4 separate regions of the Homo sapiens genome follow, and regions 2, 3 and 4 are each reported to be linked to region 1. Evidence: microRNA targets listed by miRTarBase, many of them from high-throughput screens and not tested one by one. Region 1 holds a microRNA gene; each other region holds the end of a gene's coding sequence.

Region 1 (3,126 bases):
TTGGCTGGGGTGGGGTCCTGCCTTCGCCCCTTAGCATTCACCCCCTACCCCTTTTCACCATGTAAAACCCTGTGGGCCCTGGGCCCTGGATGCTCTGCGCCCGAGGACCTGGGTTCTGCCATCACCTGGGCAGTGTGGGGGGCATATAGGGGGAACATGGGGTGCCTGATGTAGTGCCTGTGTTTGACCTTGTTTAGGTGAAGAGCACCCTTTCCAGCTTATGTTTTGTATCATGACCGGGAAAGGTACGAAACAAGTGTGTCGGGGCCCAGATGATTTGATGGCTCTACGGGCCGAGTATGGGACACAGGATAGCTTGGCCCTGGGTCAGGTATTAGTCAGTCCTTGCTGGCACCTGGGCAGGGACACATCCGTGGATGGGGCCTGGCCAGGTGGCCTCTGAGGTCCTCGTGTCCACTGGAAGGCTGTGTCCTCTGTTGTAGTCACTGACTTGCTGGACCTGGGTGGGAGCTCACCCACCTGTGGATGGGCCAGGGAGCTCCTGGAATCACTAGAAAGATGAACTTTTTTTGCCTTCTAAATGTATGAAAAGATGGGAAATGATAGGAAAATAAGTGGAAGTCAGATCTATTCAGGAAAATGACTTCCCAGGGAAGAGCTGGGGTGCCTCCAAACCCAGAATCCTCGGTTTCTAGAAGCAAGGCTGACCGAGGTGGGCAGCATTCTTTGGGACCTTGAGTGATGAAGTAGTTACTTAAGCAGAGTGTTTCTCATGTGAAGCCAGGCAGTCTAGGACACTAGGAATCATTTCAGCGTGGGGGAGACGCAGACACTGTGCTTGCCCAGGGTGCTGCATTCATCTGAAATGCCGGTGGCTACCAGCTCTTTGTCACGGTTCCTCCGTGGTCTCCTTGAATGCTGTCAGATTCAGGGCCCGTGTGGGCAGCGGCAGCCTCGTTCCCAGTCGTGTTTAGGGAATGGGGTCAGAGAAGTACTTGCTAAAGCTTCCTGTGTGCACGTGTAATTGTGTGTGCATGTGTGTTAAATAAATGTATTTCAACTCGAAATACACGTTTCGTGGCCATCAGTCTAGGGATGGCTAGAATTTAGTCACTAAATGAAACTAAGCCGCACCGTCACCAATAATGTGAACATGATTAAAAACCACACTCAGTTCTTATTCATTTACCTACAAGTCCAGAAACTTTTAGAACTTATTTCACCATTAAAATAAATAGTTTTTTAAAAAATATACAACAATAAGGAAAAATTTGAAAGCCTCTTGCCCCTCCATCCCAGGCCTGACAGAGTGGCTTCCACAAAGAAAGAGGCAGAAGCCAGGGCTGTCTGTGCCTGCAGGGCGCTGTTGGGCTCACAGATGACCCAGACTCCCCCGTAATGGAGCCGCGGACCCACAGCGAGCCACTTGCACCAGGCTTAGCCAAGCTGACAGGCCAGCGGAGTAAGGAATGTTCCCTACCATTGTCCAGAAAATGTAACGAGGGTGAAGGTGTGCCAAGCAGACTCCCCGTGTCAGCCCTGAGGCGACTGCCATCGCTTTCAGAAACCTGACTACCAACCTGGATGAAAACCGACTGCTTGGTCATGGCCATGCAGTTAGAAAACACAGCAGCAATCCTCAGATGAGTGTGGCCGTATTTGTGTTACTCAAGCTGCTTTGTCATCTGCATTTGAAGAAACGTGGTGAGCCTCCTGTGTGTGCCCATGTGGCAGTGGGCACCTCTGCCCCCTGCAAAGGCTGTCTAAGAACACAGAGCCTGCAGTACAGGCCCTGCCTCCTGACATGCCCCAGGCCGGCTGGAAGAAAGCGCGGGACTGTCCTATTGACGTGGGGAGGGGACGGCTGGACTCTGTGATGCTAACTGTGTTCTCTGCTGGGCCATGTGGCTCCCCACAGAGACCCTGGGTGCCCAGTCATTCGCGTTCTCCTATGTGTGTGTATATATATTATATATACATGTATTTACTAACTTTAGAAAGCCCCCAAGGGGGCCTTGTTTCTGCTTGGACAGTCAGCGTCCATAGCGTGTCATTCCTAAGCTCCATTAAGGAGATTCAGAAGCAAGCAGTTACCCCTGGAGTCTGCACGCTGGGCACAAGGGTCACACCTTCGTTGAGAGCTCCTGACCCCAGGAGCCGAGGGCAGGACACGGTAGTGTTTACAGGACCTGGCAAAGGGGCACTGCCTTGTGTGTGAGGTTTTTTCACCAGTCAGTCCCTTTTAAAAACAGCATATCTTTTGAAGAACAAGAAGTTTACGCAGGCATAAGCAACTCACTTTGCACGTGGAGCTTTCAGGACGTTTCATGTCTGTTACGTTATAGCCTCTATCCTCATGGGGGCTCTGAGTTCAGCAGGGCCTGAGCTGTTAATCTGCTTTTTCAAATTATTAATAATGAAAGTAACACCATGCCACCACCTGGTATCATTTCATGCTTTCTATGTGCCTGGTGTTTACACGGCTTATCTCATTTAATCTTCCCAGCATGTAATAAAAATATTGCAACAGGTACTGCTCCTGTGTGGACTCCTTCCCCCGAGCTCACACTGCTTGAGGCCTTCCCAGCTCTGGGCTTTGTGTCCTGTGTGGACTTCTTCCCCGAGCTCACACTGCTTGAGGCATTCTAGCTCTGGGCTTTGTGAATATCCTGCTTTTATCCTCATTTATAGGTAAGAAAGCTGACTCAGAGAGGTTAAGCAGCTGGTCTGAGGTCAACTGCTTACGGGTCGGGGAGCTGGGCCTGCACACAGGGGTCTGATGCAGAGCTGGTCCTATCTGCTTTATAAGCTGTGGCTCACAGGGCACTCCAGGGGCTCGAGAGGACCTGGCGGGCTGAGATGAAGACTGGTGAGGCCTGGGAGGCAGGTGCTTGACTGAGGTGGGAAGTGGGACCTTGGTGCCAAGCATTCCCAGGGCCACGGGGCAGGCCTGTAGGGTCTGGTGGGTATCTGGGGTCCCGGAGAAGCCCTTGGCACGGGGCTTCATGAGAGCATAGGCGAGTGCCGCGCCCTGCAGTTGAGCACGGGGGATGCAGCTGTCGCAGTCGCTTTTGAAGAGTGAGGGGTGAGGCCTGCAGTTGCTGCCCGACGTTGTTTACAAGTGAGCAAGTTTTACAAAAAACATGGACAGCATCAGGGCTGACT
Region 2 (3,126 bases), not on the chromosome of region 1:
GGTCTCATTCTGTCACCCAGGCTGGAGTGCAGTGGCACGATTTCAGCTGACTCCCCAGCTCAAGGGATCCTCCTGCCTCAGCCTCCTGAGCAGCTGGGACCATAGGCCCAGGCCACCATGCTCGGCTAATTTTTTTTTTTTTTTTGTATTTTTGGTAGAAGTGGGGTTTCGCCATGCTGCCCAGGCTGGTCTCGAACTCCTGGCCTCAAGTGATCCGCCCACCTCAGACTCTGGAAGTGCTGGGATTACAGGCGTTAGCCACCTTGCCCAGCCCCTGTTATGTCTATTTTAACACACATACATCCATCATCCCCCGCCAAGAACTGACCTAAACCAATAAGTTATTCCTGAGGTGCTAAATTGCCACCATGGCCCTTTAGGAATTTTTTTTTTAAATTGAGATGGAGTCTCGCTCTGTTGCCCAGGCTGGAGTGTAGTGGCATGATCTCAGCTCACTGCAACCTCTGCCTCCTGGGTTCAAGCGATTCTCATGCCTCAGCCATCTGAGTGGTTGGGATTACAGGCGACCACCACCATGCTCAGCTAATTTTTGTATTTTTAGTAGAGATGGGCCATGTTGTCCAGGCTGGTCTCAAGACTCCTGGCCTCAAGTGATCTGCCCGCCTTGGCCTCCCAAAGAACTGGGATTACAAGTGTGAGCCATCGCGCCTGGCCTAGAAATTTTTTTAAAGGAAAGATGCTGGGACATCTCATGGAACTGAAAGACCAGCTGAAGCTCCCAGCCTGGAGCTGGGGCAGGAAGTGAGGCAGTTCCAGGGACCTCAGGACAGAAGTTCATAGACCTCTTTCCTTGGGACACTGCCAGAAACTCACTTCTGCTCTAGCAGCAACCAGACTGAGTTTCTCAGGTCCAAATTTCAAATCTCTCTGAGAGTCTGATTGGCCAGCTAGATGAGATGGCCATCCTGGGAAGATGAGCTTGGGCTGGGGAGGCAGCTCGTTTTTTTTTTTTTTTTTTTTTTGAGACAAGAGTCTCTCTCTGTCGCCCAGGCTGGAGTGCAGTGGCACGAACTCGGCTCACTGCAAGCTCCGCCTCCTGGGTTCATGCCATTCTCCTGCCTCAGCCTCCCGAGTAGCTGGGACTACAGGCGCCCGCCACCACGCCCGGCTAATTTTTTTGTATTTTTAGTAGAGACAGGGTTTCACCGTGTTAGCCAGGATGGGCTCGATCTCCTGAGCTCGTGATCTGCCCCCCTCGGCCTCCCAAAGTGCTGGGATTACAGGCGTGAGCCACCGCGCCGGCCAAGGGAGGAGGCTCGGGTTTTAACAACATGGCCACTGGGGGGCAGTTATGAGTCAGTTTACCAGAATCCAATTCATTGGCCCGTTTTCAGCTTGACACTTCACTGCATTTATTTGTTTCTCTTAACCATCCGGTCTTAATTACCTGTCTTAACCATCCGGTCTTAATTACCTGGCTTTTGTTTTGTCTTCACAACAGCGTTTTGGGAGAATGTTGAATCCAAGCGAGCTGAGTCAGCTGTCTGCTGTTAAGCTGGAGACAGAGGGGAAGATTGAATATAAATGGCCCCCAACCTTGACAAAAGTCTCAAGAAATGTGGAGAAGCCCCTGAAAAAAACTGAGATTAAGCTTCTTTCACCCTAGCAGAAAAAAAAGCAGGAGGTTAGGAATCAAGCTGTCAAATAAGGGAGTTTTATTTATTGCATGTTTGGGTTTTGGACTAAGAGTTTACCCCTAGCCGTGTCTCATACCCTTTCTTTCCCTGTCCTGCAAAGCTTAACATGGGAGGTAGAGATTTGTGTCTCTTCTTCTTCTTCTTCTCTCTCTCTCTCTTTTTTTTTTTTTTCCAATCAGGCACTCTCTGTACCCCTGCCACCCTGAGGAAGACAAAATATGAGAGGATCTAGCAAAGTCTCTGCAAAAATGATTAATGTGAATATTCCCATCCGGACTTCCTATGAAAAAGTTGCATTATAAAATGAAAGAATAATTGAAGAAAATATAGATCCAGAAAAATCCATAAAGATGGACAGGAAAAATCAAGAGTTCTATGGGGCTCTTAATGGGTCAAGACCCAGAGGGCAAAGATCATCTGGAAGGCTGGAAACTGGCTAAGTATTTAGAATGGCTTGTGTACTGGTGTGAAGTGAGGAATTGAAAGAGAGCAGGAGAAGGATGTGAAATATATTTTTCTGTGTATTAAGAGTGCACTGGCCGGATGTGGTGGCTCACGCCTGTAATCCCAGCACTTTTGGAAGGCTGAGGCAGGTGGATTGCTTGGGCACACGAGTTTGAGACCAGCCTGGGCAACATGGTAGAATCCCGTCTCTACCAAAAATACAAAAATTAGCCAGGTGTGGTGGCGCAAGCCTGTAGTCCCAGCTACTCGGGAGGCTGGGGTGGGAGGATCACTTGAGCCTGGGAGGTGGAGGTTACAGTGAGCCAAGATCAAGTGAGCCAAGATCACACCACTGCACTCCAGCCTGGGTGACAGAGTAAGACCCTATCTCAAAAAAATAAAAATATAAATATAAAAATAAAAGAGCGTACCTCTGCCCACGTCCCTTAACTTTGGTATTTCCTCCTAAGATTGAGAAAATATTCGAAATACTTCTCCTTTATTTTGATCATTGTTCTGCTTCTCTCAATGTGACTGGCTAGTTTCAGCCTAATAAGGCTTCCCCTGTTTTCATAGGTTTACCCCTCTCTTCTGTAAACAAGGGCTTCCACTAAAGCCTGGTCATCACTGGGAGTTGAGGAGCTGGGGTTGACCATTCTTTGCTGTAATAATTTTAACCGTGGACAAGTTCCTGGTAGGCAGCAAAGGTAGGTTGGGATCCTTGATGTACTCTTGGACCCAGTCGTCATTGGGGTTGGTGCAGACTTCTCGGTTCCTCTTGGTGACGAAGCTGCAGAGGCAGAATTAGACCGTCATGGGCTGCAGACTCGGGCAGGAGTCCGGTGCCCACCCCCACCTCTGGTTCACATGGAGCTCACCTTATGTTCTTTAAAGCTTCCCTGGGCCTGTCCTGGCTGGGTTCCCTCAGACAGCCTCTCTCTCTGGCCTCAGAACCTTACCATCCCTTCTCTCAGTCCCTTCTCCACTCAGCCTAGACCCTCAAGCTTGGGTTTCATAATGAACC
Region 3 (3,126 bases), not on the chromosome of region 1:
GGCATGACCCAGGGAACAAGACCCCTGACCCCTCCTCGTCTAGACCCATGCCTTATCCAGTTAAGGTCTTTTTCACTGGCTTAGTGCCCTTTAAACACCCATCACCACCACATACATACACCAACACACATTCCACGCAGCCACACCACACATCCAGTGGCGCCAACTATTCTAGCACACTCTGGACCGCGCTGTTCTTTGGCCAGGTGTAAGTCCTAGCACTTACCTTTATGCCATAACCCCCGCCTTCTGCTAACAAAACCCTCAAAGTAAGGCCCAGTCACAGGAGCAAGACAAGGATTCCTAACACCAAAGGAACTGGGCCAAGACTCAACTGGAGAGTTTGAGTACAGAAAAATTAGGCAACATTTTCTCACAAAGTAGGCAGTGTGCTTCAGCTGTCACTCTTCAGACTGGAAGTCTTCAACGGATGTTAAGTGAAATTTAGCTCAGAGGGTTCCTACTCCTAGAGAACATTTTTATTGAAAACACACCCCCCGCCCCCACCCCACACACACATACACACAGACACACACACATACACACACACCCCCACACACACACCCAGCAGCCTTCATTATGGAATTAAGGAAACCATTCAAGTTTAAGACAGGTTTATTTTATTAGTTTTTCCTAAACTTGTCTCATGTTTACTGAATGATTTTCTTAGTGTAAGAACGTGACCTGGAGCTTTAACAAATCAGTTTGGATAACGCAACCTGGATAAATGCTTGTCTGTACACAAGCCATCAATTACCACTCTCTGTCCTGGCCTCCATGAAAATCCAATTGGTCTTAAAGCCTGTCTAAGCAGAGAGCAAGCAGACCACATCATCGTGTTTCAACTTGAAATTCACCCCCATCCCAGCACCCACACCCTTCCCCACACACACACACACACACACCAAAAAAAAAAAAAAAAAAAAAAAAAAAAAAAAAAAAAATTTTTTTTTTTTTAAGAAGAAATGGCCATTACGGTCTGGGCCAGTTGTAAAGGGTTGGCTTAATCCTGCAGCCAGCACTTTTAAAATAGCTACTGGCTTCACAGCAGGCCAGCTGGAACTCTTGAAGCATGACAGGTAGAGAACAGAGGATGTGCTAAGAACCTGGCCTTGTTGTGGTGCCTCGAGGCCTCCATGCATGCTTACACACCAACATAAGTATACTTTCCCCTTCCTCCTCCTAAGCAATTGTTCTCCATTGCACTTTAGAGCCTGTAACACTCAAACTTTTCAATGTTATCTAGAGATGGACAAACGCTTAATTCTAACTATGCAAGATAGCATCTTATTTCTAACAACATAGGCCAAAAGTAACAGAGAGGCACTCTGTTATACAGAATATCAATTTTTACAAAGATTCAAAACATTACCAACAAGCCCTGTAACAGTTTCTTAAAGCAGGTACCAACTCTGGCCTCAAACACAGGCTTCCCTTGGAGTTTCCAAAATGCCTCACTCCTGTCAACACTGCCCCAAAAAGCAGTCAGAGGAATGCTTTGGTATACCTGACATTGGCCACACAGTTAAGAATGAGGTGTTGTTATAACATCAGGCACCACACTTCTTTAACACTAATTTCAGACTCATCCAGTACAATCCAGTGTATCTTAGTTTTTTTTGCATCATCTGTCAGCTGCTTAACACGTACAAATTGGCAGGTTCATGACAGATATTAACACTTAACACACAAGTGATTGTGAATGAGCTAAAAAGAACTTTTAACTCTTGTTCTAGGAGTTCAAGCTATACCTCAAAATTATACAGAACATCTCCCACCTGAATAAACAGGCCAGGATACAAATCTTTACACCAAAATTAACAAGGATTTAATTCCTCAGTTAAATTTACCATGGCTATATCCAACAGTATATCTACCCAATTCTAATCTTCTGAAAATTATTTAGACCTTGATGCTTGGGGTATTCATGAACATACTTTCAGGAAGAGCCTCCAGGTTTAAAGCCCTCAGTTAACAACTTACTCTAGGCAAGGGGGTCTATTTTCCCAAGAGAAGTACATGGCATTTATAATGGGAGCCCTTTTATTGGGAGAGAGGGAAGAGAACACAGGTGAGGGTGAAGGTGAAATATGAAGAAGCTCAGAGCACACCTTTGTTCCTCTGCCGTGTTAATCCATGCCGTGCCATGCTCCAGCCCTCACAAAGAGGGGGACCCCATCCCCACACCAGGCAGGGAGCATTTAAAGCAATCTCCACAACAGATTTTTAAAGCATAATTAGAGCTCCTGCCATGTAAGTCATAATGAAAAGTCTGCTGGATAGCTAGAGCTGTAGCTATAGCTCAACTTTCCAAAACAAACTTATTCTTGTAGACACATGGTTAAACATAAAGGAGTGAAGCATAAGCTCAGTAAGACTAACTGGGCTTCTAAATAGTACCATTATGAAAAAGATACAATGCACTTAATTTCTGTATCTAACTATTTAGAAGTGAAAATGCTCCATACATTACCTATTTCCCCTCCCCGAAAATCCCCTAAAAACTGACTAAGAAATCTTCAGTATTCACTTGCGCTAGTTGATATTTAGAACAAAGTTGACAACTTAAAGCTTTATAATAGTCTGTTTTAATAGAAACAAGTGTTGGAATCAATCAATGTCCATTTCAGGAAGCTTCTTGTCTGAATCCGAAGGCACAGCTGTGTCTGTACCCTGCTCAGCAGCCTGGGGGCCTGGGTTGTCTCCTTGTCCATCCACTGGTCCATTCTGCTCTGCATTTTTTTGTTCCTCTTTTGGAGGTTCCACTTTGGGTTTGGGCTTTGAAATTATAGGGCTACAAGTACTTGTCAGCTCCTGGAATGGGTAAGACAGAAAACTGGTTTCTTATAAAATTAACAAATTTTACAAGCCATGCTAAACCCAAATCCGCCCTCTCCCACCACCCAATCCTCAACCTAGAAGCTAAAACACTATAATAAAGTTCCCTCCTAAGTGTCACTTGAGGACTATTAATAATAAGGCTGTCAAGAAAAGACTATTAAAAAAAAGTCTTAAATTACCTTAATTTTAGCTTCAATCTCTTTTGACTTGACAACTGGATCCATGGTCAAACTCTGCTTGTTCTGCAGATTTAGCTTGTTATTCATCCACTCCATTGCTTCATTT
Region 4 (3,126 bases), not on the chromosome of region 1:
AGACTCGGATGAAGGTTAGGTTAAACTTTTGTCATGGGTCCATTGGCAGGCTAGTCACAAGTGCCTCCTGGATCTTTGGGTCCTGGCGGAAAACGATGCCAGACTCTCAAATTGCCACAAGGTAGCCTGGAAAGAACGCCACAGTCCAGAAGGAGCCTCGAAAGTGGTTTCATGAGGTGGAATTTACTCCTGGTGAAGATGCTGTGAACGCTGTTTAAACTACAACAGAGGATTTACAATATTGACGCACGTAGTTAAGAAAGCAGTGGCAGGGTTTGAGAGGATTGGCTCCAATTTTGAAAGAAGTTCTATTATGGGTAAAATGCTATCAAACAACATCTCATGTTCCAGAGAAATCTTTCGTGGAAGGAAGCGTCAGTTAATGTGGTAAATTTCATTGTTGTTTTAACAAATTGTTACAACCACTTCAATATTTAGCAACCACCACCCTTATCAGCCAGCAGCCAATGACATTGAGGCAAGACTCCTCACCAGCAAAAAAGATTACGACTCCCTGAAGGCTAAGATCATTATTAGTATTTTTAGCAATAAAGTATTTTTATATAATTTCTTTTTAAAAAATAATGGAGCTTCAAATAAGGGCATCAGGTATTTTTTCTTTTAATAGATGGGGTTTTGCCATGTTGTCCAGGCTGAGCTCAAGCAATCCACCTGCCTCGGCCTCCCAAAGTGCTGGGATTACAGGCGTGAGTCACCCCACCCAGCCAGCATCAAGTGTTTTAAAATTAAAGTATGTGCCTTGTTTCCTAGACATAACACCATTTTACACTTTATTAGACTACAGTGTAGTGTAGTGTAAATGTAACTTTTTTTTTTGAGAGGGAGTCTCGCTCGGCCACCCAGGCTGGAGTGCAGTGGCGCGATCTTGGCTCACTGCAAGCTCCGCCTCCCAGGTTCACGCCATTCTCCTGCCTCAGCCTCCCGAGTAGCTGGGACTACAGGCACCTGCTACCATGCCCGGCTAATTTTTTGTAATTTTTTTTTTTAGTAGAGACGGGGTTTCTCCACGTTAGCCAGGATGGTCTCGATCTCCTGACCTCGCGATCTGCCCGCCTCCGCCTCCCAAAGTGCTGGTATTACAGGCATGAGCCACCGCGCCCGGCCATAACTTCTTTTTTTAAATAGAGACAGGATCTCCCTATATTGCCCAGGTTGACCTCACAACTCCTGGTCTCAAGTGATCCTCCCCCTTCCATGTCCTAAAGTACTGGGATTATAGGCATGAGCCACCACACCCAGCCAATGTAACTTTATATTCACAAGGAAACAAAACCATTTTTGTGACTCACTTTATAGCAATATTTGCTTTATTGTGGTGGGCTGCAACCCAATCCACAATATCTTTGAGGTATGGCTGTACTTTCTAAGTGTTTCCTGAGTCAGCCTACTTTTTCTCCATTTTTTGGTCATTATTCTATCCGGTTTTTTTTTTGTTTTGTTTTGTTGTTGTTTGGAAACAAGAACTTGCTGTGTCGCCCAGGCTGGAGTGCAGTAGCACGATCATAGCTCACTGCAGCCTCACCATCCCTGTGTTCAAACCATTCTCCTGCCTCAGGCTCCTAAGTTGCTGAGACTACAGATGCACACTACCACACCTGGCTCATTTTTAAAAAATTGTTTGTAGAGATGGGGTCTCATCATGTTGCCCAGGTTGATCTGGAACTCCTGGCCTCAAGCAATCCTTCCGCCTCAGCCTTCTGAGTAGCCCTGATCAATCCATTGTTGAAGAATACATGGATGTTACTTTGCAGTCTGTCATCCTGAATTTGTGTTCACTTGACATTGCCTAATTATTAGTTTCAGCTTACCCACTTTTTGTCACTAACACGCAGAAGAGACTGTGGCCTTCTTACTGTATCATATCAGGAAGCATCTCACATTGGTTTGTGCCATTACTGGTGCAGTGACTTTCAGCCACTTGGTTAAGGTGGAGTTGGCCATATTTCTCTGCTGCAAAATTACTGATTTTCCTTTTGTAATTAATAAGTGTGTGTGAGTAGATTCTTTTGAGATGAAGTATATATCTTGTTCTTCCTTGAACTTAAAGGTTTTTTTTTAAGTGAAAGCAAATTTGTTAAGAAAGTAAAGGAATAAAAGAACGGCTACTCCATAGGCAGAGCAGTGTCACTTTAAGGTTATGACGTCAAGTGATTTTTGTACAAATCAATAATTACTGTGATGATTGAAAAAAGATTATTACCAAGTTTATTTTCATTGTCTCAAGGTCTTCTGAACTCTGGATCTAGGCTGTGTCAACAGGGTAGTGTGGTACCCCCTGTACCCGTCTCTGCCTCCTACAGTCCTTTTCATTTATTTTGTTTTTTTATAATAGAGGCAGAGTCTTGCTATATGTTGTCCAGGCTGGTTTCAAACTCCTGAGCTCAAGCAATCTTCCTGCCTTGGCCTCCCAAAGTAGTGGGATTACAAGTGTGACCCACCACATCTGGCCAAGTCCTTTACCATCTTCAGAAGGCTTAGCTTGCAGTTTCAGCAGAAGGATAGACTCCCAGGAAGACCGTGAGACAGATTTGGGGTCCAGTTGATATTATCAAGTACACTGAATTTGACTGTGTTCACCACGTTCTGGCTCCAGAGAAATGAGAGTCACTAGTGAAGTTGGTGCCATTTTGTGTATCTTCTGCACCTAAGGAGGAAAAAAGATAGAGGAAAGAATGTAAGAGATCAGCTTATATTCACAAACATGGACGTCAGCCTTTTCCCACCTTTTCTTTTTTTTTTTTTTTAGACGGAGTCTCACTTTGTCGCCCAGGCTGGAGTGCGGTGGCGCGATCTCGGCTCACTGCAAGCTCCGCCTCCCGGGTTCACGCCATGCTCCTGCCTCAGCCTCCCGAGTAGCTGGGACTACAGGCGCCCGCCACCACGCTCGGCTAATTGTTTGTATTTTTAGTAGAGACGGGGTTTCACCGTGTTAGCCAGGATGGTCTCGATCTCCTGACCTCGTGATCCGCCCACCTCGGCCTCCCAAAGTGCTGGGATTACAGGCGTGAGCCTCCATGCCCAGCCCCCACCTTTTCAATCCAATATGGAACCTACTACCTCCTGGGAAAGCCATGCCCCCGCTGCCCCTGGCAGACCACACCTGAG

What was found. The annotated mature microRNA hsa-miR-4269 reads GCAGGCACAGACAGCCCUGGC and lies in region 1 at 1,298-1,318, opposite strand. An mRNA with a match to its seed (bases 2 to 7 or 8) in the 3' UTR can be bound and repressed. Matches are read on the target gene's strand: a 7mer-m8 pairs with bases 2 to 8, a 7mer-A1 pairs with bases 2 to 7 and ends in A, and an 8mer does both.
Region 2: miRTarBase lists CCL16 as a target of hsa-miR-4269. Seed matches in the 3' UTR shown: 8mer at 1,834-1,841.
Region 3: the mRNA of HSPA4 is a reported target of hsa-miR-4269. Seed matches in the 3' UTR shown: 8mer at 1,551-1,558.
Region 4: the mRNA of DUXA is a reported target of hsa-miR-4269. The part of its 3' UTR that is shown has no 7-base or 8-base seed match.

What each region holds. Positions count from the first base shown.
Region 1 is chr2:239,303,664-239,306,789 of GRCh38, reverse strand. It overlaps MIR4269 (microRNA 4269), which reads right to left and starts at 1,328; the gene lies at 1,245-1,328. All of the region lies in intron 2 of HDAC4 (histone deacetylase 4), which reads left to right.
Region 2 is chr17:35,974,840-35,977,965 of GRCh38, forward strand. CCL16 (C-C motif chemokine ligand 16) reads right to left here. Exons shown (of 3, transcript NM_004590.4): 3 at 1,660-2,892. The coding sequence ends at 2,727. Among named protein-coding and RNA genes, the nearest start is that of CCL16, 5.1 kb to the right of the region's middle.
Region 3 is chr5:133,103,921-133,107,046 of GRCh38, reverse strand. It overlaps HSPA4 (heat shock protein family A (Hsp70) member 4), which reads right to left. Exons shown (of 19, transcript NM_002154.4): 18 at 3,021-3,126; 19 at 598-2,814. The coding sequence ends at 2,611. Among named protein-coding and RNA genes, the nearest start is that of HSPA4, 53 kb to the right of the region's middle.
Region 4 is chr19:57,151,818-57,154,943 of GRCh38, forward strand. It overlaps DUXA (double homeobox A), which reads right to left. Exons shown (of 6, transcript NM_001012729.2): 6 at 2,204-2,665. The coding sequence ends at 2,595. Among named protein-coding and RNA genes, the nearest start is that of ZIM3, 8.2 kb to the left of the region's middle.